Regions from separate parts of the Homo sapiens genome. Here region 2 is linked to region 1. The links come from fine-mapping of genetic effects on gene expression. Tissue or cell type: blood mononuclear cells. Region 1 holds a variant in brackets; the other region holds the start of a gene. All regions are shown on one strand. Distances are from middle to middle.

Region 1 (5,208 bases):
TTCAAAAAGTCACGTGAGGTTTAAAATGAAAAACGGGAAATTACCACACATGGGTAGTAGGACTTGTAAACTGTGAGCTTCACTGTAGGTCCATTTCATTGGTAAATCTCTAGATGTCATTGTCCATAGGTCCTTTAGGGTGGGGTGGTGTGTGGGTGTGTGTCAGTGTCAGATTTCCTAGAGAAGAATCTTTTACTCTCTTGTCTGTAGAAGAGTGTAAACTGCCAGCATTTGGGTCGCCAAGCAGGGAAGGAAAGGACCTGAATTCTCACAGTTTAGGAAGTAAAATTTCACTTAGTCTCTCTATTCATTTTCTCATTCCTACCTCCTCCCCACCAGCTGTGCCTATTGTCATTGAGTCCGGTATCTGGAAGGGGTAGTGTAGTCTTTATTCTTGGTGAAAGGAAAGAAATGTGCAAATGCTTCTTTGCCTGTTGCACAGTTTCAAGGATGAATTTATCCACACATCCACTTTTGAAGGTGCCTGTGTGTTTATTTCATGACTTTCTCTTTGTTTTACTGGTAACAAGCAGCTTCTTTCCAAGCTTCCATATGGCCAGCTTCAGTTTTATCTTTCGCTGAACTGTAAAGTCAGTTAGCACTTGCCTGTTAGTTACCAGGTTTTCTGCCTAAATTTTTCTCTATTTTCTTGGGGATTCTTCTTCTTATCATTTCATTGTATTTTTTGAAGTGAATGGCTGTAAATATTTGTGTCAGTCTGTTACATATTCCCCTGTCCCCTTCTCAGCTGGCTGATACCTGCTATCTTTCAGGTCTCCATGCCTCGCTTTCCCTTGATAGTTTGACTGTCTTCATACTGATTTAGGTGACTTCTTGTGCTCTTCTGGAGCTATGGCTCCCTGAATGAATCTGCATCTTAGAATTCTTCAGACCTTTCCATAGTTGTCTGTTTACTGGACAAGAGCTGGAGCTACATTTTCATCACTATATCCTTAGTGCCTCTACAGTGACTGGACACAATCATTCAGGACATATTTGTTGAATTGGAGTTAAGTATTAATTAACTGGTACATTTATCTGGTTTAGTAAGAGAAGAGTGTGTTGCTTGTAATTAAGTGTTTTATTAGGCATCATTGATGATGAATTTAGTCCAAGAATGTCATCTCAAAATAAATGCTGGTGCAGCATTGGGAAGTTCACATGCAGAAAGCTTGTAACTTTTCTGTGTAGGAAGGTATCCTGACAAATTCAAGCTCTGTGGACTTCCTGAGATGCTCTATGAAAAATTAAAACGTTAATGAAAACAGGCATTGCTTCTTACATTAGCCAGTCATGGAAGTCTCCAGTTCAAGAGAGCACCCTTATTCACATAGGAGGAAGAAAAAGAGATTCTTTGTGTGAGGGAAGAAAAATGAATATTGCAGTAATCACTTTTTGATTGAGAATCTGGAATTCTAAATCTGCTTTTATCACTAATTTTTGTGTGACTGTAAAACATTTTCTGTTTAGATCTGTTATTATCTCTATCCTTTTCTGCAGGATAGAGATGATAATATTTTTGCTCTTGTTATTAAGATTTCATTATAACTGTACAAATAAAGTTCCATTATGCTGAATTTCACCGAGATATCCAAACTGTGGTGCTGTAAAATAACTTTATTTTTAGAAAAATTAAGTTTTAGTGAATACTTTACCACTTTATAGATAAAACAGCATTAACAATTAGCAAGTAAAAATAACTCTTTAGATGTAATAAGACAAGTAGGAGGTGCTATTTTGTTTTTGATTTAAAAAAATAAGCTTTATTTCACAGTCTTGAGGAGTACTGGTCAGCTATTTTGTAAAATGCCTATATATATATTTTGGTATCATCTTTCTTCTCCATTAGCATGTAAGCACCAAAGGTGCAGACTTTGTCAGTTTTGCTCATTGCTATTGTGAAAGAAAGTTTTCAGGCCAGGCACGGTGGCTCACGCCTGCAATCCCAGCACTTTGGGAGGCCGAGGCGGGCAGATCACAAGGTCAAGAGATCGAGACCATCCTGGCCAACATGGTGAAACCCTGTCTCTACTAAAAATACAAAAATTAGCTGGGCGTGGTGACGTGCGCCTGTAGTCCCAGCTACTCGGGAGGCTGAGGCAGGAGAATCACTTGAACCCGGGAGGCGGAGGTTGAAGTGAGCCGAGATTGCGCCACTGCACTCCAGCCTGGCGATAGAGTGAAAAAAAGAAAATAGAAAGTTCTCTGAAAAGGAATTTGGAGGAAAGAGACTTCATTCCAGTGAACAGTTTGCAAACCTGGGAGATGCAGTTTTCACTGTAAAAGAAGCTGTGGTGTCCCTTCTTGTTGATTCTTAACCATGCTCCCCACAAACTGTAATAATCCAAGTGTTCTTGATTCCTTTAAAGCTCCCAGTTCAGCCATTTGAGCCTCTCATGATTTCGTAGTCCCTATACCTTCCAACCCAGTTAACATTGAACTTGAACTTGGAGGGAAGACCCTCTAATAGTTCACCTGTCAACCTATTCTTCCCTTCACCTGGCCCCAAAAATGTTTTTTGCTTGTTAAGATTGACTTCTTTGCCTTCTATCCTTTTTGTTTGTTTTGTTTGTTTCTTTGTTTTGAGATAGGGTCTCCCTCTGTCACCCAGGCTGTAGTGCAGTGGCACTATCACGGCTCACTGCAGCTTCAACATCCCAGGTTCAAGCCATCCTCTCTCCTCAGGCTCCCAAGTAGCTAGGACCTCAAGTGTGTACCACCATGTCCAGCTGATTTTTTAATTTTTTGTAGAGACAAGGTCTTGCTGTGTTTCCCAGGCTGATCTGAAACTCCTAGGCTCAAGCGATTCTTCTGCCTCAGCCTCCCAAAGTGTGGAGATTACATGTATGGGCCACCATGGCTGGCCTATCCATTTTTTAAATTAATTTTTTTTTAGATAATTGTAGATTCACATGCAGTTGTAAGACATAGCACATAGTGATACTGT[G/A]AACCCTTTACCCAGTTTCCCCAAATGGTAATATGTAATAAACTTGCAAACAGTGTCACAACTGGGAAATTGATACTGATACAGTTAATATACAGAACATTTCCACACTACAAAGATCTTTCTTTTTTTTTTTTTGAGACAGAGTCTCACTCTGTCACCCAGGCTGGAGTGCAGTGGCGCGATCTCGGCTCACTGCAAGCTCTGCCTCCCGGGTTCACACCATTCTCCTGCCTCAGCCTCCCGAGTAGCTGGGACTACAGGTGGCCACCACCACGCCTGGCTAATTTTTTGTATTTTTAGTAGAGACGGGGTTTCACCGTGTTAGCCAGTATGGTCTTGATCTCCTGACCTCGTGATCTGCCCACCTTGGCCTCCCAAAGTGCTGGGATTACAGGTGTGAGCCACCGCGCCCGGCCTCCACACTACAAAGATCTTTCATGTTACTCTTTCATAGTCACACCCACTTCTGTTCTCCGCCTTTCCTTAACTCCTGGCAACCACTAATCTGGTCTCCATTTTTATAATTTTGTCATTTCAAGAATGTTATATAAATAAAACATACAGCATATAACCTTTTGGGGCTGGCTTTTTTCACTGAGCATAAATTATCTGTCAGGTCATCAAAATTGTTGCCTTTTTATTGTTCAGTTATATTTCATAGTGTGGATGTACCAGTTTGTTAACCTTTCATCTGTTAGGGACATCACAGTTATTTCTTGGTAGGCTATGAACATTTGTGTATGAGTTTTTGTATGAGTATAAGAAGAGTACAGTTGTTGGTTCCCGTAATAGTTACATCTTTAGTTTTTGTAAGAAACTGCCAAACTGTTACCCAAAGTGGTTGTAGTATTTTATACTCCCACTAGCCTTGTATGAGGGATCAACTTTCTTTGCATCCTTGCCAGCATTCAGTGGTTTTCATTTTATCCATTTTAATAGATGGTGTTGTATCTCTTTGTGATTTTAATTTGCATTTGCCTCGTGGCTAATAATGTTGAACATTCTTTCATGTGTTTATTTCTTATCTTTACATCATCATTGGTGAAACATTTGTTCATATTTTTTTCCTCATTTTCTAATTGGATTTAGTATTTTTTACTGTTTAGTTTTGATATTTCATTATATATTCTAGAGACTACTGCTTTGTCATAAAAGTGGTTTGCAGGTATTTTCTCCCAGTCTGTAGTTTTTCATCCTCTTGAAATGGTCTTTTGCAGAACGTTTTTAATTTTGATGAGATCTGATATGTTGATCTTTCCTTTTATGGATTGTGCTTGCAAGTCTAAGAACTTGTCACTTTGGTGCTAGATCCCAAATGTTTTCTTCTATATTTTTAGATTTTATAGTTTTATGTTTTACATTGAAGTTAATGTTTCATTTTGAGGTTTTACAATTTTTTTTTTTTATTTGTGGATTTCCAGTTGTTGCAACACAGTCAGTTAGGCATATTTTGGTGGATCTGTTTCTGGGTTCTCTGTTCTCTTCCATTGATGTTTGTGTCTGTTCCTTCACCAGTACCACACTATATCAAATACTGTACCTATGTGGTAAGCCTTGATATCAGGTAGAGTGATTGCTTTCACTTGTTTCTTCTTTGTCAAGATAATTCTGGCTATTCTAGGACCTACGCCTCTCTCTCTCTTTTTTTTTTTTTTCTTGAGACAGGGTCTCACTTTGTCACCCAGGCTGGAGTACAGTGGTATGATCTCAGCTTACCGCACCCTCTGCCTCCCTGGCTCAAGCGATTCTTGTACCTCAGCTACCCGAGTAGCTGGGATTACAGGCACATGCCATGATGCCCAGCTCATTTTTTGTGTGTTTTTAGTAGAGATGGGGTTTCGCCATGTTGGCCAGGCTGGTCTCGAACTCCTGACCTCAGGTGATTTGCCTGCCTCGGCCTCCCAGAGTGCTGGGATTACAGGTGTGAGCCAGTGCACCTGACCTATATAAATGTTAAAATAAGTCATTTATCCACAAAATACCTTGCTGGGATTTTGATAGGAATTACATTAAACCTGTAGATCAGTTCGGGGAGAATTGACATCTTTACTATGTTGAGTTTTCTAGTTTACAGACCTTATATCCCATTTTATTTTTCTTTAGTTGATTGAACAGATATATTTTGGATGCTGCTTGTGGGTTAGGAACTATGTTTGAAAAGAGATAGCAGTTGATGGAGAATGTGGATTTTGTGATGAAAAAGTAATCTCTAAGCCTTAGACATCAACAGAGGAGGGTGAGTGCCAACACAGAAGAGGAAA
Region 2 (5,132 bases), 160 kb after region 1:
TCTGGGCTGATGACAGGGTGCTTTTGTAGGTGGAGCTGGGCATCCCCAGATTTCCCCACACTGTAATACCTTTTAATTGTTGGTATGTGCTAGAGCTTGGTGGAAAAAATAAAATGGATGAGTTCCATTTTGGGGGTCAGGATAGAGTTTTTAATGGGTGCATTAGTTCTCTTTTTACCCCAACTCTGCCAACAACCGAGAGGAACCCAGTGTTCTCACACTCCCCTCCCAGAGTTAAAGTTCAGGAACTCCCTGGGTGTCCAAATCTGGACCCTTGCTCACAGTGCCCTGCCTTGTGGTCTCACCATCTCAGTCACAAGTAGAGAAAAACAAAATCTTCTTTTTTTTTTTTTTCAGATGGAGGCTTGCTCTGTGGCCCAGGCTGGAGTACACTGGCATGATCTTGGCTTACTGCAACCTCTCCCTCTTGGTTCAACTGATTCTCCTGCCTCAGCCTCCCGAGTAGCTGGGATTACTGGTGTGTGCCACCATGCCTGGATAATTTTTGTATTTTTAGTAGAGATGGGGTTTCGCCATGTTGGCCAGGCTGGTCCGAACTCCTGACCTCAAGTGATCCACCTGCCTCGGCCTCCCAAAGCGCTGGGATTACAGACGTGAGGCTCTGTGCCCGGCTGAGAATAACAAAATCTTAACCCTCAATGTCTGCACTGGGGATGCAGAGTGAGTGACTTCCAAAAAGTCATAAATACGCTTTAAATCATTCATTTACTCATTCCGTAAACATGTACTGAATACCCCTTATGTGCCATAAGGAATACAGGAGAAAAAAGCCTTTGTTTTTGTTCTCAAGACAACAACAAACCAAAGTGCTGTAGGTGCTATGGTAGAAATATCCACATGTTGCTTGAAACACAAGGAACACACGTCTAACCTGGGGCCCAGCATTGGAAGCCCAGTCCAAATCTTGCTGGGTGAGGTTGTAGGAATTCTTCAGTCATTGACTGATTCAACAAAGATTTACTGAACACTTACAGTGTGCCAGGCTGTTATCTGGGCACTGAAGACTCAGTCTTATAAATGAAGTAGCCAGATTCACAGCTCTCACGGAGCTTGTGTTTGAGTTGTGGTATGGGGAGGGAGCTAAGGCAGGGGATGCAGAAGAAACAGACTGTATACCAGTCAGCCGATAAGCAAGCCATTGATTCCACGTGTTTTACTGAGTGTCTAATATGTATCATGCAGAGTGTTGCATGCTGGTATTATAAAGACGAATGAGACACAGCCCCTGTCCCTGAGGGTTTAGATAAAAAGGAAAGATCCTGTAGGAATGCCTAGTGCAAAGAATGGCGCTGTGTTTGGGGAAAATCAAGCTGTTCAGCTGAGCTGGGGCACAGGGTGTGGTGAGGGAGGGGGCTCCCTCTTTCAGTCATGAAATGCACCCTTTCCACAACTTGGGAAAGAATCCTTCCTGGAAACTTCATATGAACCCTCTCAAAGTACTTATTGATGTAGACATTTGGAACACGCTGTAGGTCCTGGGTGTCTGTAAAATAGCATCATCCAGCCGATCATCTCTCCCCACATTGCTGAACTGAGGACATGTGAACTGGTATCTCTCGGTGGTTCAGAACAGGGGCCAGCAACCTACGGCCCTAGGGCCACCACCTGTGTAGTAAAGAAAGTTTTTTTTTTGGAACACAGTCTTGGCCATTCATTTAAATATTATCTATGATCACTCTCATGCTACAATGTCAGAGGCATTATAAAGACCACGTAGCCCAAAAACCTGTCTGGGTCTGTAAGAAAAAGCTGCCAACCCCTGGTCTAGGCGCTCTGCTTACCTGAAATACAAACCAATAATGAGTTTCTGACACACCAAGTTCAATTCCCTCCCTCCCTTCCTTCCTTCCTTCTTCCTTTTCTTTCTTCCTTCCCTTCCTCCCTTCCTCTTCCCTTCCTCCCTTCCCCTTCTCACTCTCTCTCTCCTTCTCACTCTCTCTCTCTTTCTCTCTCTCTTCCTTCCTTGTTTTCTTACCTAACCCACATTCCCAGAAAATGATGTGAATAAAGACAAGTGTTGGACCTCAATGTGTCAAAGTTAAACTACAACTAGGATCTGCCTTCTGAGGTATGGCAAGAAACAAATTGGTTAATGTTTGCAAAATGCCAGGACATTCTCGAATAAAAGGCCCTATATAAGTTCGGAGTATTTATAATAATTATGATTATTATTATAATTTATGAGATGTCATAAATCTCTCCAAAATAGGATGAGATGAACACTTTTAACAAGAGAACAGGACTCTATATAAATCGCTGTGGGCTCACCACCTCTAAGGAGGAGCACTGACTGAAGACAGGTGAGTGTGAAGCAGAGGCATGGATCTTACACTCGGGCTTATTGAGGATGAAAATCCAGTGTATGGTGATCAGTTGGCAATGATTGTGTCTCTGCTGCATAAGAAATATTGGACTCAGGCGAAACTTAAGGACCTTGCAAAGAAAACCCAAGTTTGAAAAGATTTGTAGATGATAGAATAATTTTTCCTGTTCATTACAACACTCATCAAAATTTAGATATCTTTTAATGCAAGTATGTCATTACTTTTGGATTTGTGAGCATGTGCAAATCGAATAATGGGAGAAAAGAAATGTGTGTGCACTTAACTGTAGCTGTAATAGGGCCAAATGCGACGTCATATTTGTTAACTGAAAGCCAAAAGACTAAGGTGTTTGTATTTTGCCAGACGGTAAATCCCTTGCCTGCCCTCATGGGCAGTCTTGCCAATGCTACATTAACCCATAGACCATGAGTATTGGTTCTATAACAATCTTATTTTCTCTGCAAGCTGTGTAAGAACTAAGGCCAACATGTCTAACAGCCTCGGCTAACAGACTAAAAAGACAGATACGCCTCTAGAGTCCATAGACGGAACAGAGGGGCCAAGTCTCCCTGATTTGCTCTGTGCAGAAGGAAACGTTCACGGGGAAATCTCCAGCATAGGATGATCCTTCCTGGAGTTCTGAACTCTCAAAAACGCAAATGGGAAAAGCAGGCACAGAGGACGCACTGAGAGAAGGAACTCCCTTCCAGCTCACAGTGTCTCTATGCAGGGAAGATTTGCCTGCCCAGAGGGAAGAAAATGATCAAACTTTCAGAGGTCTTCTAGGCTGGTAATTATTGATTACAATCCAAATTCAGTGAATAGGTATTTTCACAGGCCATGTGAAGGTGCAGCTCTACGCAGCGTAACAGCTTAAAATGAGCCTTCCTGTTGCTGCCCTATATTTTTGCTCTAAAAAGTTGTATTTTTCTCAAAAAAAAAAAGATCTTAGTGGCAGAATAATTTTATATTATTTTATATTTGTGACTACATTGCTATTACTATTTTAATTTTAGGCCTGTTGGTGCATAGCAATCTGTGAGGCAATGGGCTGGAGTGTTGCTGTACGTGCATGTGTGTGTGTGTACGTGTGTGTGTGTACGTGTGTGTGTATATATGTAGGGAGGGAGAAGATTAGAATAGCAAGAAGAGGATGAGTACGACATGATGCTACTGGTAAGGCCTTTAAGAAATTTAAAAACTTAAACATTTTAAAAATGGAATAAAATAAATATTTAAAAATTTTAAAAAAACAAAAATTAAAAAAATTAAAAAGTTAAAATAATAAAAAATTAAAAATAATTTTAAAACAGGCCAGGTGTTGGTGGTTCCCAGCACTTTGGGAGGCTGAGGCAGGCAGATTGCTTGAGCCCTGGAGTTTGAGACCAGCCTGGCCAACATGGCGAAACCCCGTCTTTACTAAAAATACAAAAATTAGCTGGGCGTGGTGGCACAGGGCTGTAATCCCAGCTACTCAGGAGGCTGAGGCAGGAGAATCACCTGAGCTCAGGCAGGTCGAGGGTGCAGTGAGCCGAGATCACAGCACTTCACTCCAGCCTAGGTGACAGTCAGACTATGTTTTGAAAAAAAAAAAATTAAAACAATTTTAAAAATTAAAGAGTAATCTAATGAGACATTCTTACAGGCTTATAATGGTGAGATGATTCCACAATTTTGGGCCACTGCACTCCCACCTGGGAGACAGAGTGAGACCTTGTCTCGATTAAAAAAAAAAAAAAAAGAAAAAAAGAAAAAGAAAAAGAAAAAACAAAAAGAAAAGAAAAAGAAAAAAACCCAGGGGCTGGGCGCGGTGGCTCATGCCTATGATCCCAGCATTTTGGGAGGCTGAGGTGGGTGGATCACCTGAGGTCAGGAGTTCTCAACCAGCCTGGCCAACATGGTGAAACCCCATCTCTACTAAAAATACAAAAATTAGCTGGGCGTGGAGTGCCTGTAGTCTCAGCTACTCAGGAGGCTGAGGCAAGATAATCACTTGAATTCAAGAGGCGGAGGTTGCATTGAGCTGAGATCGCACCACTGCACTCCAGCCTGGGCGACAGAGTGAGACTTTGTCTCAAACAAAACAAAGCAAAACCCAACAAAACAAAAAGTAATTAAAATTAAAATTAAAAAATTAAAAAAAGAAAGGCCTGTTGGCACACAATGAGTAGGTAGACACAGAGACATGTTAGCAATAAACAAGGGTGACAACACAGCTTAGAGCAGGAGACCATGCCTAATGTGGATGCATACAGGAGTTCTCAGTTCTCTCAGGATTAGATGGGGACACCACAATGGGGCAGGGGCACCTTCATTGGGCACGTTGAGGTGTTAATACGTCACATTTCTGGGCTGGATGGAGGGCCCCAATGACCTGCAATGATACTGTTCAAGGTAAAGATTGAGAGCATTCATGGAAAAGTTTCTAAGGTGAGAAAACCATAAGACCAAAGATACCTGTTTCTACCTTTTCTAGAAAAATTGATGAACTGAAGAAGACATGGTCCATTATGCCTTACAAACTTACACAGTGCTTTGGGAATTCCAAAGTACTCAGTGGAGAGAGGGTGAGTAGAGGAAGATGTCCCCATCAAAGCCACCAGGAACATGAGGTAGCTCCTGAGGGATGCTCTGGTTGTCAGTTTCCAGTGTGCCTGGCAGGCCTGTTGCCCCAGCTTGTTGACACCCCCTTGCTGTTTGTTACTATTTTGCTCTCTGGGAAGGGAGAAGAGGGATGCTACCATAAACATTGTGCTTGACATCATGACCACTGTGCTGCCTTGGTCT

What was found. PIP is the estimated chance that this variant, and not a neighbour inherited with it, causes the effect.
Region 2: it holds the start of LYG1, and the variant in region 1 is fine-mapped to the expression of LYG1 in blood mononuclear cells (TOPMed, PIP above 0.99). The same link has a PIP of 0.9 or more in ileum and whole blood.

What each region holds. Positions count from the first base shown.
Region 1 is chr2:99,457,082-99,462,289 of GRCh38, reverse strand. All of the region lies in intron 3 of REV1 (REV1 DNA directed polymerase), which reads left to right. Among named protein-coding and RNA genes, the nearest start is that of REV1, 30 kb to the left of the region's middle. The variant G/A (reference allele first, on the strand shown) is at 2,948.
Region 2 is chr2:99,298,239-99,303,370 of GRCh38, reverse strand. It overlaps LYG1 (lysozyme g1), which reads left to right and starts at 2,174. Exons shown (of 7, transcript NM_174898.3): 1 at 2,174-2,321; 2 at 4,822-4,912. All of the region lies in intron 1 of LOC107985923 (a long non-coding RNA gene), which reads right to left.